Regions from separate parts of the Homo sapiens genome. Here region 2 is linked to region 1. The links come from fine-mapping of genetic effects on gene expression. A gene starts in region 1. The other region holds a variant in brackets. All regions are shown on one strand. Distances are between the middles of the regions. Region 1 holds the start of DIPK1A (divergent protein kinase domain 1A). Region 2 holds the start of SNORA66 (small nucleolar RNA, H/ACA box 66).

The links. PIP is the estimated chance that this variant, and not a neighbour inherited with it, causes the effect. A credible set is the group of variants that fine-mapping cannot tell apart.
Region 2: its variant is the best candidate, but not a certain one, in a credible set for the expression of DIPK1A in whole blood (TOPMed, PIP 0.56).

The regions. Positions count from the first base shown.
Region 1 is chr1:92,958,930-92,964,307 of GRCh38, reverse strand. It overlaps DIPK1A (divergent protein kinase domain 1A), which reads left to right and starts at 2,846. Exons shown (of 5, transcript NM_001006605.5): 1 at 2,846-2,932. The coding sequence starts at 2,879. RefSeq lists silencers at 2,486-2,565, 2,726-3,285.
Region 2 is chr1:92,839,398-92,844,775 of GRCh38, reverse strand. It overlaps RPL5 (ribosomal protein L5), which reads right to left. Exons shown (of 8, transcript NM_000969.5): 7 at 4,137-4,225; 8 at 2,852-3,010. The coding sequence ends at 2,911. It overlaps DIPK1A (divergent protein kinase domain 1A), which reads left to right. Exons shown (of 5, transcript NM_001006605.5): 5 at 581-2,609. The coding sequence ends at 1,393. It overlaps SNORA66 (small nucleolar RNA, H/ACA box 66), which reads right to left and starts at 4,057; the gene lies at 3,925-4,057. The variant A/TA (reference allele first, on the strand shown) is at 2,165.

The sequences.
Region 1 (5,378 bases):
CTGGTCCATTGTCTTCTCATTCTCCTAGATGACATTTCACACCTTCTCTTCCCTTTTCACATAATCTTTCCCATCTCCTCCCAGCTGATAGCATTTCTTTCTACATCTCTAAGAAAATTGAAGCAATCAGAAGAGAACTTCCAAAGATTCCTATTTACCATGCCTACCCACCTGCCTGCCTGTTTCCATAGATCAACAGTCTGTACTCGTCTACAAATGATCCTTCCACTTGTGTGTTAGTTTTCAAACGCTTTTTCCCTCTCAAGGACACCACTCCAGCACTTCTCACTTCTTGTTTCTACATGAATTTTCCCTTTTCTTCCGGATCATTCCCATTAAAAACAAGTATTTCTCCCCCTACCACCTTCTTTCTCTCTTTTTTTTTTTTTTTAAAGAAACAGGGTCTCACTCTGTCACCCAGGATGGAGTGCACTGATGCGATCATAGCTCACTACAGCCTTGACCTCCTGTGCTTGGCCTCTCCCCATTTTTTTTCAATCTTCTTTTGACTCTGCTTCTACTGTCCCAGATTTGGGCTCCCCTTTGTAAGAGAACTTCTCAAAAGAATTGTTTGTATTAGCCACCTCCAGTTTCTCTCCTCTCATTTTTTTCTTAAAACCACTCCAATCAAGTTTTTCCTCTATTGCTCCACTGAAGGGTTATCAATGGCCTCCATGTCACTAAATCCAACAGTCAATTCTCAGTGCTCACTCGCAGAGGAGCACTCCCTCTTCCTAGATCCACAAGCTTCACTCGGCTTCAGGGCACCTCACTCGGGTCTCCCACTTCACTGGCTGCTCCCTTTCAGTCTCCTTGGCTGGCTCACCCACTACCCTGTCTTAAAGCTGCATTGGTCCCCAGAGCTCCATCCTCAGTCGTCTTTTATTTACACTCACTTCCTTGGTGATCTTAGGCAGTCTCATGGCTTTAAACGCCATCTAAATGCTGATATCTCTCATATACCTCTAGCTTGGACCACGCTCCTTAATCCTAGACTCATTCATACATACAACTGCCTAATCAAGATCTCCACTTCAATTTCTAATAGATACCTTAAAATGGAACTTCTCCAAAACTGAACTCCTCTTTTGCCTCAAACTTCCTCTATTTGTAGTCTTCCCCATCTCCCTTGGTGTTTTCCCCATAACCTTTATTAGCATTCTTATCCAATTTGATTTTATTGATTACATTTATTATTTATTGCCCCTCTCTCTCACATCCACAAGCGCAAGGATTTTTGTCTGTTTTGTTTATGTAACCGAAACAACTTGAATGGTGCCTGGGTACTCATAAATCTTTATTAAATGAATGAATGAAACCACTAGGATTCATCCTTATCTTACTCAGAAATTACTGTCTCTTGACCCAAACAAAATCAATGAAAAATTGGTTTATCTGCAAGCAATAAAATAAGACCAAGTAGCTGTAGTTCCAGCTACATGGGAGGATGGCTTCAGCCCAGGAGTTTGAGTCCAGCCTAGGCAACATGGTAAGACCCCTCTCAAAAACAGAAAGAACAACCACCACAACAAAAATCACCTAGGTTTAAAACCTGTGTCTGTGTGTGGGTTGAGGGAAGGGGCAGACATGAAGGTATCTCTTCAGAACAAGGCACCTGAACAAGGCTTATGCAAAAACCAAGTGAGAATGAGTAATGGTTTGCTTCTGGGGAAACCCCTTCTCAGAGCAACAGGCCGGAATGAGCTCTAACGGGCCACCTAAACTTTGTTAGCATCACGCTTAAACGTGGTAGGTGGGGTAAAAAGCAGCCAAAAAAAAAAAAAAAAAAAAAAAAGCTGCTTCTTCCATTACAAGTCACTTGGATCAACAGCTGTTCTCCCACTAGGGTGGCTCTTTTTTCCCTTATTTGGAACTCATTGTCAAAAGAAAGACACCACACCCTGTGTTATGTAGCCTTAACCAAGCAGCAGGCCACGTCCCAGGCTCCCTGCCTTCAGGACTGTATTTAATTCGGTGTTTTTGTTTTTGTTTTCTTTTGAAATCAGTGTTCCTGGACGGGGCCAGGAAAACTCTGAAGCTGTCTTAAAAACAATATAAACCAAAAAAGTCGGAATTTTTTAAAAGTACATTTTTAAAAAAAGTTGTAGGCCGTTAGAGGCGAACTGGAGCGTGGTAAGGGGGGCACCGAGTTCAGCAGTGGGGCGCCCTGTCCGCGTTCGAAGCTGAGCCCAGTCCTGGGGGGATGCCCCGGTCTGCGTCTCCAGCTGCGGCAGACACCCCCTTCCCCCGACCGCCACCAAGGGCGAGGGAGGACGAGCCAGTCCCCAGGGAAGGAGCCCCAAGCTTCCCTTGAATTTCCAAACAACCCGTCCAGACACGTCCTGACTCCAGGAGAAGAGTCCATGGGGAGCGTCGGTGCTGCCGGGGCGGGTGGCGGGACGCGCAGCTGGGCGCAGCGCGGGGAGCCGGAAGCCGGAGCAGACTGCGAGGCCAGCGCGGTCCGGGGGTCGCCGCATCAGCCAGCGAGAAGCACGCCCCAATCCGCGCCGAGCGTGCGACACCCCCGCTGCCGCGGCGCCCCCTCCCGCCTCCGCGCGCCTCCCCTTTAAGCTCCAGGCGCAGTCGATTTGTGTCGGCGGAGGCGAGGTGCGACTCCCCTTTATGGCGGAGTCGGCAGCAGCCTCTCTGACAGCCGCGGCGGCCGGCGGGCGAACAGGGCAGGAGGCTGGGCCTCTGGCCTCTCGCCGCCTTCACTGCAGCCGGGCCGAGGGGAGCGCGGCGCGCGCCGCGGCGGGGGCGGGGGAGTGGGCGGGCCCGGCCGGGCAGGGGGCGGGGAGGCGGGGGGAGGCGGGGAGCCCGGCCGCCAGCGCTCGGGTCCGCCTCTGACTGCAGCGCGGCGGGGCGATGTGTGATTACCATGGCGAGGAGTCTCTGTCCGGGGGCCTGGCTAAGGAAACCCTATTACCTCCAGGTAGGCCGGCGGCCGCCCAGCCACCAGCTGCGGGAGCACCCGGCCGTGTGCCCTGCCGCGCCGCGCAGGACTCGCCCGCTCCCCTCCTCCCTCCCTGGGTCTGTGCCCGCCCGAACCCCGCTGCCCCCTGCCGTCCGGCACCTGGCGGCGCGCCCTCCCCAGCCCCCTCAGCGGCTCTGCCGACGCCCCCCACCGCGGCCCTCGCGGCTCCCGCGCCGCGGCCAGCCGGGCTCCAGGGCCCGAGTCGTCCCGCCCGGGTACGCCCTCGCATCCTGAGAGCCCCGAGACGTGACCTGGGTACGACCCCGCGCTCCGGGCATTGCCCGCAGCCCTGCGCCGCTCCAGGCGGAGCTCGACGGGCCGCCTTCTCCCTGGTGTTTTCGGGGCTTTCCCCCCTCCCCCGTGGGCCCCCGCAGGTCGGTTGCCCTTGACTCAGTGTCTTGGGTCTTAAGTCGGTGGTAGGAAAGGTGGTGTAGCATTCCTCCGTGTCTTAGAAAATTATGACAATTTGTCACACCAGTGTTTCCCCAGGCTCCAAAAAGCAGCGTGTGCCTCGTGCCGAGCCCCTTGGTTGGGTCGTTCCATCACACCCAAGATTTAAATGGGAGGTGGAGACCGATAAGCCTGAACCAGGCGGATGGGTGTTTGCTTTTTAAAGGAAAGGGGCTAGTGGCTGGTCTGTGGATCCCAAATACCCTAGTAATGCAAACGTAATTCTCAGTCATGTCGTGTGTACGGTTCGCGTGTTAATTTTTCATGATTTCCCGTTCCACCCTCTGTTCCGCTGCCAGTCTGTGCCTTGGAACCCTACTACTGCCTAAGTGTACTGTTTGGTCACCAGGGGGACCTAGTAGACACCGCGAGTAGCTGAGCGCAAATCCATCACTCCGATGGAAAAACAACTACAAATCAATGCCTTGCGTGGGTCAGCAGTGTTAGCCAACGCTGCATTCAGAGGACAGTATTCCTTTACCGCTTACATTAAAAGGCCAAGAGGTAGATGATTTGGGGTCAGCTGGTGCTTTTATAAATTATGAAAAAAGTTGAGAAGGTAACCATCATGAGGCAAGTAAATCTTACATTTTTGTTTGAAAATTGTATGTGTAAGTCATTACCCTGAAATGAGTGACGTATTGCAAATTGGAAGCATGATTTGACAACCCATGATATTAAGCGTGTACGAATAAAACTGAGTCTTTGTAGCAAGCACCACCAATAGTAATTGTGCACTTGAGTAACACTGTCACAACCCCTTCTAGAATTCAACCCAGGCCAGGTACCTCTGTGTAATCTTTTATGTGAGTTTAAAAAAAAGCTTACCGGCCAGGCGCGATGGCTCACACGTGTAATCCCGGCACTTGGGAGGCCGAGGCGGGCTGATTCCTTGAGCTCTGGAGTTTGAGACCAGCCTGGGCAACATTGTGAAACCCCGCCTCTACTAAAAATACAAAAAAAAAAAAAAAAAAAAAAAAGTTGGTTGGGTGCCTGTGGTCCCAGCTACTCCGGGAGGCTGAAGTGGGAGTATGGCTTGAGCCCCGGAGCGGAGATTGCAGTGAGCTGAGATCACGCCACTGCACTCCAGCCTGGGCAACAGAGTGAGACCTTGCCTCTTAAAAACAAAAACAAAAACAAAAAAACGGCCAGGCGCAGTGGCTCATGCACTTTGGGAGGCCGAGGCGGGCGGATCACGAGGTCAGGAGATCGAGACCATCCTGGCTAACACGGTGAAACCCCGTCTCTACTAAAAATACAAAATATTAGCCGGGCGTGGTGGCGGGCGCCTGTAGTCCCAGCTACTCGGGAGGCTGAGGCAGGAGAATGGCGTGAACTTGGGAGGCAGAGCTTGTGGTGAGCCGTGATCGTGCCACTGCATTCCAGCCTGGGCGACAGAGTGCGACTCCGTCTCAAAAAAAAAAAAAAAAAAAAAGTGTTTTACTGTGGAAATTTGTATACCTTCAGAAAACAGAAAACAATAATGAACTGTCATATGCCCATCAGCCACCCTCATCAGTATTTTATTTCATTTCACCTCCCCCACTCCCTCTTCCAACCAAACTTATTTATTTATTTATTCATTTATTTATTTATTTAGAGACGGGTCTCCTTCTGTTGCCCAGGCTGGAGTGCAGTGGTGCCATCTGGGCTCACTGCAGCCTGGACTTTCCAGGCTCAGGTAATCCTTTCACCTCAGCCTCCTGAGAAGCTGGGACTACAGGCGCACACCACCATGCCCAGCTAATTTTTTTAATTTTTGTAGACACGGAGTTTCGCCGTGTTGCCCAGGCTAGTCTCAAACTCCTGGGCTCAAGCAGTCCTCCTGCCTTGACCTCCCAAAGTGATGGGATTACAGGCATGAGCCATCAAGCCTGGCTGAACCAAAGTATTTTAAAGTAAACCTCAGGCATCACATCATTTCATCTCAGTACCTCAATATACATTTCTAATA
Region 2 (5,378 bases), 120 kb after region 1:
GAACAAAATAATTATTGTGATAAATACAAAATAGGATAAAATAATTAGGCCAGGCATGCTGGCTCATGCCTGTAATCCGAGCACTTTGGGAGGCTGAGGTAGGAGGATCACCTGAGCCCAGGAGTTTGAGACCAGCCTGGGCAACATAGTGAGATCCCCATCTCTAAAAAAAGGAAAATAATTTTTAGTTGACCCTTATTGTAACTTTGATGTAAGTACATTACAGTACAATTTTTCAAGTCCACATATGAGGCGGTGGTTTTTTAATGTATGAATGAGGAATAATTACATTGTTGGTTAACTATCTAAGGGGCCTGAAGGGGACAGGGGAGTTAGTGGCCATTTCCTAACAAACAGACAAGTATTTTAAAGTGGGTTTTACTGCAGTTACATAAAGCATGGTTCTAGTTCACTTAGGAAGTATCATAAATATTTGGAGATATAATACATTAAGTTCCTGTTTGGGGATTCAGTACCAAGATTATTTCTGGCATGGTTAATAATGCCCGTAAAGAAACTTAGTATGTTGCATGGGAGGTATTTTTCATTCCTTCTGTGTAACTAGCCAAATTCTTGACAGGCAAAATTGGGTGACCAAGGAAACCTCTCTGAACTGGTTAATCTCATCTTGACGGTGGCTGATGGAGACAAAGATGGCCAGGTTTCCTTGGGAGAAGCAAAGTCGGCATGGGCACTTCTTCAACTGAATGAATTTCTTCTCATGGTGATACTTCAAGATAAAGAACATACCCCCAAATTAATGGGATTCTGTGGTGACCTCTATGTGATGGAAAGTGTTGAATATACCTCTCTTTATGGAATAAGCCTTCCTTGGGTCATTGAACTTTTTATTCCATCTGGGTTCAGAAGAAGCATGGATCAGCTGTTCACACCATCATGGCCAAGAAAGGCCAAAATAGCCATAGGACTTCTAGAATTTGTGGAAGATGTTTTCCATGGCCCCTACGGAAATTTCCTCATGTGCGATACTAGTGCCAAAAACCTAGGATATAATGATAAGTATGATTTGAAAATGGTGGATATGAGAAAAATTGTGCCAGAGACAAACCTGAAAGAACTTATTAAGGATCGTCACTGTGAGTCTGATTTGGACTGTGTCTATGGCACAGATTGTAGAACTAGCTGTGATCAGAGTACAATGAAGTGTACTTCAGAAGTGATACAACCAAACTTGGCAAAAGCTTGTCAGTTACTCAAAGACTACCTACTGCGTGGTGCTCCAAGTGAAATTCGTGAAGAATTAGAAAAGCAGCTTTATTCTTGTATTGCTCTCAAAGTCACAGCAAATCAAATGGAAATGGAACATTCTTTGATACTAAATAACCTAAAAACATTATTGTGGAAGAAAATTTCCTACACTAATGACTCTTAGTTCATTTGGACATAATTACCATTTTAAGAAACCTGCCACTTTTAAAGAACAATTTTGAGCATTAAAAAAAAATGGCTTCAAATTCCGGCCAGTTACACAAAACTCCTTCCCCCCAGGCCTGAGAAGCCATCAGTATGTGATCACTGAAGTAATGGCAGGTGTAGGATCAACAGGTCCCCAAGATGTCATTCCTGCCCTTTTAGAAGCCCTGTTACATCTCCGAAGTACATTCATTGTGTAACTATTTTGACTGACTTTAAAAACCAATGCTGTGAAAAGCTTCATTCCATAAACATCAACAGTGAGTGATTTGTAGATTTACCTTAGCCAAAATACCAATGCTGGAAGCATTGTGTTTGCATTGAAGCTGCTGTTCAACAAGAAAATTTATAAATTTACTAATGTCTTAGCATGGTAAAGTTTGCACATTAACAGAAATTAAGACTGCAAAGCAGGTTAAACTTGCTTCTTTATAAAACAGATGTTGGGTTAATAGCATGGTTTACTGTATTAAAGACTTATACACCCATTTTTAACCTCATTCAGACATCAAGTTATGTGTAGCTTCACAATGGTTCAAGTGGCTTACTTCAAGAAATCTTATACTTGACAGTACACCAATTTTATTGACTAAAAATGGATGAACTTTCCTAAAGATTCAAAGGGCCCATCTTAGTATCACGCAGCTGACTGAGCCCTTCAAAACTGACATCTTAAGGCCCAATCAAGATCCACATATCCTGATTTTGAACTATGTGAAAGTGGGACTGT[A/TA]AGTGCAAGACTAAAATAAATTATAGCAGACTTTTTAGTAATAACTTTCCATTTTCAAACAGTATATCCTGTGGGCCAAAGGGCTATTTCTTAAAGAGGCATGTAAATGTATTTATTTATCTAATGTTTTTTTCCCCATGTAAACTTGATATACAAGGTTTAGTATTTGCTCCTCTTTCATATTATTTTCACACGTATACTCAGATTTGGCATGTACCTTTCAACATCTCCATAAAATTAAACACCTTTTGGAGAAAAGAACCACTATTTTCTGCTCAAAGGTTTCGCCTACCTAAAGTGGAACATGTTAAAAATCTATGTGACCATCACTGGACAGCTTTCTCTCAAAACTTTCCTTCAACGCCATGGATTAGCACCAGTTTTGTTTACTTTAAGGTACTTTTCCCATTCATCATCTGGTTATAATAAATGGATGGAAGAAATATTTCCCACTGATGGTTGGTCTGTTGCTTGCCAAATTTTTAGGGAGAGCTGTTCATCATACAACATAAGGGATAATGACTCCTGTCAGGTAAAACAGAAGCCCAAGAAATAACAACTTTTTTTCTTAAAAAGTTAGTTACACTTGTTTTCTTGGAGAAAAAAACCTGTCAACTCCTTTGCTTTTCCAAAATATTTCAGGGTATTTCCTATAAGGTTCATAAGAATAAGAGCTTAACACAGAAATAGTTGCTGTTCATAAGTTTATTATCTATATCTGAAAAAATCATAGAAAATTGCTGGGTTTAGCTCTCAGCAGCCCGCTCCTGAGCTCTGAGGAAGCTTGCCTTCTTTTGAGCTACCCGATCCTTCTTCTGAGCAAGGGACATTTTGGGACGGTTCCACCTACAAAAGATAGGAATATATATTTTTTAAACTATAACTGAAGAGAATAGAATATTTAATTTAAAATTTTAATAAAATTTAATTTTGATAGAGAATATTTAAGACTTTGCAATCAGAAGGTTAAATAATCCAAGTTCAAATACATTTACTTATGTATGATCTTAAGCTAACTTTCCCAAACCCCAACTTCTGTGATGTCCTACTACCATAGGGCCAAAAGTCAAATAGAAGACATGTTAGATTCAGTAATACCACTTCTAGGTATTTGCCCAAATGTTTTGAAATCAGTTTGTCCAAGAGAGTGGCACTCCCATGTTCATTGCAGCACTATATATTAATAGCAACAGATAAATGGATAAAGGAAATGTGGTATACATATACATAATGGATTATTACCCAGTCTTTAAAAATGATGGAAATTCTGTCATTTGCAACATGAATGAAGTGGAGAATATTGTGCTCAGTGAAATAAGCCAGGCACAAAAAGACAAATACTTCATATTCATATAGAATCTAAAACAATGGAACTCACAGAAGCAGAGAGCAGAATGGTGGTTACAGAGGCTGGTGGGTGCAAAGAATGGGCAGATGATAGTCAAGTATAAAATCTCCAACAGGAGGAGTATGATTTTGTTTTTAGTTCTATTGCACAGCATGATGAATATAGAATATCGTACATTTCACAATTAAGAGAATAAATTTCAAATGTTGTTGCCACAAAGTGTTAAGTATTTGAGGTGAATATGTTAAATACATTGATTTAATTACTATACATTGTATTTGTGGGCCATCACATCACTTTATGCTTACATGTTCATTAAGTATTACTTTCTATTCCATTTAAAGATCAAAACATGAAAGATCAACAAAAAGCAACTTGTCAGCCAATAAAAAAATGCAGTAACCAGTACTTAGACTGTACTAGGATAGAAAGAACCACCTCAGTAGTGTCTGAGGCTAACACATTTCCATCACCACAGTTACTTTTGCAAACCTGGTTCCCTTCGCTTCTGCCACATCACGCAGAGCTAGTGATCGAGTTTGCACAATTACACCAACAGTCTGCCCCACGTGGGAACCATTCCCAACCTGTTTTCTTGAAAAGACAAAAAAAAAGACGACATACCTCTTCTTTTTAACTTCTTTCTTGGGCTTCTTTTCATAGACTGGATTCTCTCGTATAGCAGCATGAGCTTTCTTATACATCTCCTCCATCTGAAACAAAGGAAAGCAAACAGTACTTGGTTTCATTTCATGTGCCCTACTATATTAATGCAACCATAACTTATCTTGTCCTTCTAAGCCAGATTCTCAAAAGGAACTAAACTAAATCAATGTTGGTAAACACTTTAACTTCTAAATGTAACTCACCTTTTCCTAACAAATTCCCAATTTTCACCTTATGCAATGTGAATTATCACTACAGAACTCCATCTTACTCAAGAAAAAAATCAGGCCAGGTGTGGTGGTTCATGCCTGTAATCTCAAGCACTTTGGGAGTCTGAAGTGGGAGGATCACTTCAGCCCAGGAGTTTGAGACCAGCTAAGGCAACACAGTGAGACCTGTCTCCATAAAAAAACTAATTAGCCAGGTGGCAATTATTAATGGTGGCATGCACCTGTAGTCCCAGCTACAGGACTACACGTGAGTCCAGGAGGTCAAGGCTGCAGTGGCACAATCACAGCTCACTGGACCCCAGCCTAGATGACAGAATGAGACCTCATCTCTACCAAAAATTAAAAAAAAAAAAAAAAAATTAGCAGGGCATGGTGGTGCACACCTATAACCCCAGCTACCTCGAGAGGCTGAGGTGGGAGAATTGCTTGAGCCCAGAAGTCTGAAGTTGCAATGAGCTATAATTGTGCCATTGCACCCCAGCCCAGGAAACAGAACAAGATCCTGCCTCAAAAAAAAAAAGTAAGAAAACAAAAAGAAAAATCTGCATGTACTTCTGAGAAATTCAGCCACACTTCTTGAGTCACTCTAAATCAAATTTTTGTCTGCAGAAACAAATATTGCGCTTCTCATTTTAAATACTGTCTGACCTAGATTCTTTCATTCAAGAACAAGTGCCAAAAGTATTAAGATATTAAGATGATGAACGTATGGGACCAAGAGTCACAACACTGACATAGCTTAACTGAGACCAAGGACTGGACACAGGCCAACAAGCAAATTCATCTGTCATCCCACAATCCCTAGACTTTTGTTTTCCATCTTTATCTCACAGGCCTTTAAAAGTAATTCCCAGCATTATGTACCAAGGACCTCTCTTCTGTCTTTCACTACCACCAATCTATCCCTAGTATCTAGTGGTAATATAAGGCCTCTAGACCAGAAAGATGTCAGAAGTTTTCCTGAAAAGCC